Linked DNA regions of Homo sapiens: region 1 is reported to be linked to region 2. The links are microRNA targets in miRTarBase. Many come from high-throughput screens and were not tested one by one. Region 2 holds a microRNA gene; the other region holds the end of a gene's coding sequence.

Region 1 (3,410 bases), not on the chromosome of region 2:
AACCAGGGCTTATTTGTTTCATTGAATGGTTAGACCTAAGAAAGTGATGGAGAATTTGTCAATGAAGGTAGTGTTTCAGGTATATAGTGTCTGTAGTTGTTACACTGTGAATAGACCAAAAAACTGAGAAATTATTTTCCCAGTATTTGAAAACAATTTTATCATTTAGCAAATAAGTGCATCACATTACTGAAGAATGAGTAAAGTTTCAACATAAGTCTTTGTTATACGTCTATTTATTAATGAAAAAGTATCACCAACATCCATTTAAAAATAAGCAAAAGACATTAATAAACATTCTTCCAAAGAGGATATACAGGTGGCAACTAGATACAAGATGTTCAAATGTTCAATACCATAAAATACCAGAAAAATGCAATAAAATCACAGACAGATGCTATTATACAGCTATTAAAACAACTAAAATTAAAAAGACTAACCATACCAAGTATGGCAAGAATGTAGAGAAATAAGAAGGTTCACATACTGTTGATGAGAATGCAAATGGTACAGTTAGGTTATAGTCTGGCCTTGTCTTTAAAAGTGACGCATTCACGTACACTGTACTACTGACACAGGAGAAATAAAGCATTTCTGCATATTAAGAGTTATATGCCTATGTTCATAGTAGCATTATTTGCAACAGCCCAAAACTGGAAAGCATCCAACTGTTTATCCAAATTGTGACATATCCACAGACTATTTCTCAGCAATACAAATGAACTATTCACATAAGCAATATTGATAAATCTTAAAAGTAATTGTGCATCAGCTGGTGTGGTGGCTTACGCCTGTAATCCCAGCACTTCGGGAGGCTGAGGCGGGCGGATCACGAGGTCAAGAGATCAAGACCATCCTGGCAAACATGGTAAAACCACATCTCTACTAAAAATACAAAAATTAGTTGGGCGTGGTAGTGCATGCCTGTAGTCCTAGCTTCTCAGGAGGCTGAGGCAGGAGAATCGCTGGAACCCAGGAGGAGGTTGGAGTGAGCCAAGATCATGCCACTGCACTCCAGCCTGGTGACAGACTGAGACTCCATCTCAAAAAAAAAAAAAAAATTGTGCATCATCAGGAAAAATGGAGTAAGTATTTTACGTTTCAATTCACATAAAATCCTAGAAAACACAAACTATTCTCCTGTAGGGAAAGTAAATGACAGGACTCCTGAAGGCCTGGAAAGTACACGCAGAGATTGTAAAACAGCAAGAGGTGAATCATGAATATGTTCATGATCATGATTATGGTTTCACAGGCTTGTATGACAAACTCTTCAAATTATACACCATAAATGGATGTAAACTATGGCATGTCACTTACACATCAAGAAAGTTTGTAAAACATGTTTCACAATAAAGTATCTGATCACCCAACTTTCAGAAACCAGAATGCCTAGCAATCTCATGTTGACTGCACTCTCTCTTCAGGCCTGGGGAAGGGCAACCATGAGTCCCTCCATGCAGGAAATGTTGGCAAGCAATGAAGGCTGTGGCAATTTGAGACAACAGCAACACTGGTGGAAATCACAAGAGCTATCAATACATCCCTGGCCTATAGGACTTCTGTTATCTTTATCCTCCTTTTTCTGCCTCTACAGCAATGCACTTGAGGTGAACAACCTAGAAAACCAACAAGAATTAAAAAATAAAACCCTTTAATTATTTTTGCTGAAAATAACCTCAGCTATTGGACATACACAGATTTCTAGGTCCTATGACTGCTCAAAGCCACAGTCACGGGAAGATTTGTAAATGTACTTTTATAAGAGGCACATTCCAACTAGTTTGCTACAGTACACACAGTACAGAAATACCCAGGTATTTCTGTACCAATTACAGTTCACATGTGACTCGCGTTGTCTTCTGCGTGACATCGGCCTATGGAATGTTTGATATCAGGGCATGCCTCCTTATAGAACCCCATGAAAAGCTTCTCAGCAGCACTGGGCATCATATGACATCCTCTGGAAACAATGGAATAAAATTGTCCTATTCCCTGAAGCACACATGCTTGTCATAACAGCTGGCCTCTCCTCAGGATGACCTCTAGTCTCACAGAAAGAATAGGGATCCAGGCCACAAATTAGAATAACCAAAACCTTGCATTTTTTCCTAGGAGATTTTAGGTAGCAAAGCAAGTATGACCAAAACCAGAATTAGAATTACTCTGTCATCTTACTTTCCTGCAGAGGCCCACAAAAGCCATCCATTCCTTCATATAGAGTTGAAGTCTGTCTCCCAGCCACCCCACACAGTAAACAGAACCCCAAGACTACAGGTAGATTCAAATATAAGGCTTTTATTAGTGCACAAACTGGAGCAATGTGAGGCAGCCATTCACCACGTGGTGACATGGAGGCTGGAAGAATGACCAAGTGTCATGTGAGACCAAGAATTTACATGAAGGGAATCCTTGCACATAAGTGTCCAGCAGAACCAAGGCTGGGCCCTCCTGACCCAAACTGGGTCACACGTATGCTGTGATCAGTCAGAAAAAAGAATGAATTTTCTCTAAAGGCTTAGACTGCTCAAGATTTCCTCCAAAGACTTAAGAGAACACACAGATGTCTGCCTTGTCTTAGCACATAGGAGTGACCAGTGCCCACTGTGCAAGGTGGTAGAGGGTAGATGGTTTCTACCAGAGAAACAAGGAAGAATGAGGTTCAACTTCAGGCAGATGGCTCCCTCACAAAGGCTCTCTACTGCTACAATACTACAGAGACAGCACTTTCCCTGTAGGTCTAAGGCTCTACTTAAGTGTGGACTTTCAGGAGCTAAATGATGATAGATCTTGAGTTGAAGGCGCTTCCACATTTGCTGCATTCATGAGGCCTCTATGTGTTATGACATTTTTGGTGATGTATGAGGCTGGAGCATTGGCTAAAGGAATTCCCACATTTGTTGCACTCATAAGGCCTTTCTCCAGTGTGAACCACTTGGTGTTGAATGAGACCAGACTTTTGGCTAAAGGACTTTCCACACTGGCCACACTCATAAGGCCTTGCTCCAGTATGAATTCTCCGGTGTTGAATAAGGATGGAGCTTTGACTAAAGGATTTCCCACAGTCACCACACTTATAAGGCCTTTCTCCAGTGTGAACTCTCTGGTGTTTAATGAGGGTAGCTTTTTGACTAAAGGATTTCCCACACTGGCCACACTCATAAGGCTTTGCTCCAGTGTGAATTCTTCGGTGTTGATTAAGAATGGCACTTTGACTAAAGGAATTCCCACATTCACCACACTTATAAGGCCTTTCTCCAGTGTGAACTCTTTGGTGTTTAACAAGGGTGGCTTTTTGGCTAAAGGATTTCCCACACTGGCTACACTCATAAGGCCTTGCTCCAGTGTGTATTTTCTGGTGGTCAACAAGGCTGGAGTTTTGTCTAAATAATTTTCCACATTCGCTGCAC
Region 2 (3,380 bases):
GACCTTGCTGAGTGGAAGCCATGGGCCAGGCTCTCCCCAGTCCTCATTGCCTAGAATGTCTTCTCCACACCCACCAGACGAGTACCACTCACACCCTAGACCTTCTTCTAAGTGCATCACGTACATAGCTCTTTTCATCCTCACACACTGCCGGGAAGGTAAGCTTGGTTACTTCTGCCATTTTACAGGTGGGGAAACTGAGGCTAAGAGAGGTTAACTTCTGCCGGCAACACTTGGAAATGGTTGGTATGGTTGGAAGCCGGCACCGCTGGGCCCAGGGTCTGGGGCTAAGTGGAATTCAGTGTGGGTCTTTCCTTTCCCATTAGAACCCCTCAAGTGTCAGACCCTCTGCCCCTCCTCGCAGTACTTCCGCCTTGCCTCATGCCTCCCAGGCACTATCTCTGTGAACTTTGAGCTCTGCCCCTATTGCCCAAGAAAGGCTCGCTGATGAGGAGGAAATTGCCCAGGTTTATAGTTTCCTCCCAGCCTCTCTGGCGACACCTGAGCCTGCTGCTTCTCCCCTTCCGCCTCCCGCCACAGTCATACACACAGCCACTCATGCATACTCACATCACACCACACTCCAACCAGCACTCCCCACGCTGCCAGTCACACATAGTTACACACATACAATCACATATATGTTCCCATATAGACACATTCACACTCATACTTTCACACATGCACACGCATGTGCACACACAGTCACTCATTTCTGTGTTGGAGATTGGGTGAGGACATTCAATGGGTGAGGACCAACAGGTGTGAAGATTGCTTTCTAGAAAATGACGCCTGTCTCTCTTTGCCATTCTTCCCAATCCAATGGAGCTACTAGGCTTTTCCCTCATTTCATGTTTAATAAACAAGCCGCTCTTGCGGAACGATGGTTGGATCCCTCATCAACCACCACACACTCCCGACCCCACCCTCCTTCCTGCCCCTGCCAGCAAACCTGACAGGTCCAAGGCCTGGAATTGAGAACCTGTTTTCTTCCCCATCCTGCCCCCTTGTGACGGGAGCCTAGAACTGCTGGCTCTGCGCCCAGAGGTTAACCACATTTCTCAGGAAGGTTCCAGTAGCCAGGCGGGTTGTTAGGAGAGGTCTGTATCCAACTCCCCTCCTCCTGCAGAGGGGCAAACTAACTAAATGAAGATCCACTCTTCCTTCACCCCGATCCTCAGGGCCACCAGAAGAGCTGACTGCTGTTTCACAGGCACACTCCACTGGCACAGGAGATGGGTGGGTGTGCCAACTGGACCAGCATATGGCAGGACCCTTATGATGATCAAGCCTACAGTCATCATACAATCACAGGATTGTTGCCCTATATCCATATTTTCTTGACACCCTAATAGTGCATTTGGCTAAACCTTGGTGAAATAGGCATGACAGCATGTGACTGTGCCGCCTCTGACACTGACCACCCAGGCCTTTCTCTTCACTCCTTCCCTGAGGCCTTGGAGGGTCTGCCTGTGGCCTTTAGTCTGGTGTTTGAGCTCACAGAACTGGGTGTGGTTGACCCTCCCTTTGTCCTCACCCCCTCCACACACACACAGGGATGCTCTTGCAGGCTCCTGGTTTGATGAGGCAGCCCAGGATGTGTCCCCACCTTTCCTCTTTGAGCCCAGGGCCAGTGTATTTCAGGCCGAGTGATTTCACCCAGGGTCTTGTTTCCATTCCATTTTATTTTTAGTCCTCAGGTGCAGTGGGATGAGTCCCTCCTATTCCCCAGGTGATGGCTGGCTGTCATCATTGGTCCTGACTAGTCACCTCTTGCTTCATGTATTCCCCCCTCACTCCATTGTCATTTCCATGCCCCCACCCCACAGGCAGCCATTCTACTATATCCTTTATTTGTATGTGTTCTTGTGCAGTGCTTTGTAGGCATGGATTTTGGTACTGCAAAGTGCTGCATTGTACACATAGTATTGCATAGTGTTGCCTTATTACCATTTCTGTAACAAACTGAATGTGTTACTTTATGTTGGAGCGTGGTGGAGCCTTAAGAATTTATTGAGAATCTCTGCATTAATGATTATGAAAGTGACTGCAAGTTTTCGCTGAGTCTTATTTCCTGAACATAAACTCAGGATCCTGGACCATGGTCATGTGGGAATAGCAAGAGAACTGAAAGTGGAGCCTGTCACATCTCCAGACTCCAGTTTTAGTTCTCTTGCTATTTCCACCACATCTTTCATCACTTCCTCCACTAAAGTCTTGAACTCCTCAAAGCCATCCACGTGGGCTGGAATCAACTTCTTGATGATGGATGAAGCCACTTCCTTGTGGCTGGAACCAACTTCTGTGTTTCCTAAAATGGGGACAGCAATAGTACCTACTCTCTAAAATTTGTTGTGGGCTAGGTGCGGTGGCTCACGCCTGTAATCCCAGCACTTTGGGAGGCCGAGGCAGGCAGATCATGAAATCAGGAGATCGAGACCATCCTAGCTAACATGGTGAGACCCTGTCTCTACTAAAAATACAAAAAATTAGCCGGGTGTGGTGGCGGGCGCCTGTAATCCCAGCTACTCGGGAGGCGGAGGCAGGAGAATCACTTGAACCTGGGAGGTGGAGGCTGCAGTGAGCCAAAATCACGCCACTGCACTCCAGCCTGGGCGACAGAGGGAGACTCCGTCTCAAACAAAAAAGAAAATATTTTTTGTGAAGATCAAATGGGTTAATACAAGTGAAGAGTGCCTGGCACTACTAGTGCTCAGTAAACATTGTTTATGGATGCTTTCTTTTTTTTTTTTATTAGGCCTTATAATAGCCCTATGAGGTAATATAATTAGTTCCATTTCACTGATGAAGAGACCAAGGTCCAGGGAACAAAACAACTTGCCCAGGTTTGCATCATGATACTGCCAGAAGCTAAATCTAGATCTTCAGACCCCAAGACGGCCACAGGACCTCGATCCCCATGTGTTCCCTAGAGGTGTTGTGCAGAACCTTCCTGATGCTGATCTGGATGACGAGCGGTCACCCACAGGCTGCTGGAGATGATTCCTGGTCGGGTGGCCCTCAGTCCTCCTTGATCTTTCTCCCACACTGTGATCTTCACACCCACTGGCCATTCCTGAGAAAGAACCTGCCTTCTCCAGGGCTTTTGTGGGTGCCCATGTTCACCAAGCAGCCTCTAAAGTGATGTGAATCCTAGCGCCAGGCCTGGTAGTAGCACATATGCATGGTAGATGCGTGCTGGAAAAGCAGGAGCCCTAGGAGCCTGCCTTGGGTTCTAGTCCTAGCCATCCATTGCCTCACCCTAGGGTCTAACTTTCTATCTCTAACCTTCAGTTTCCACATCTGCACAATGGGGATAGGAACTTTTCTGTGAGGATCAAGTAGGTTTTAGGAGACTATTCCAATCTTGATCAAATACT

The links. Region 2 holds the annotated microRNA hsa-miR-3925-5p (AAGAGAACUGAAAGUGGAGCCU, at 2,121-2,142, shown strand). A microRNA usually pairs through its seed, bases 2 to 8, with sites in the 3' UTR of a target mRNA and lowers its output. Matches are read on the target gene's strand: a 7mer-m8 pairs with bases 2 to 8, a 7mer-A1 pairs with bases 2 to 7 and ends in A, and an 8mer does both.
Region 1: the mRNA of ZIK1 is a reported target of hsa-miR-3925-5p. Seed matches in the 3' UTR shown: 7mer-m8 at 2,551-2,557 and 7mer-A1 at 463-469.

What each region holds. Positions count from the first base shown.
Region 1 is chr19:57,590,699-57,594,108 of GRCh38, reverse strand. ZIK1 (zinc finger protein interacting with K protein 1) reads right to left here. Exons shown (of 4, transcript NM_001010879.4): 4 at 219-3,410. The coding sequence ends at 2,834. Among named protein-coding and RNA genes, the nearest start is that of ZNF530, 7.5 kb to the left of the region's middle.
Region 2 is chr6:36,621,242-36,624,621 of GRCh38, reverse strand. It overlaps MIR3925 (microRNA 3925), which reads left to right and starts at 2,110; the gene lies at 2,110-2,186.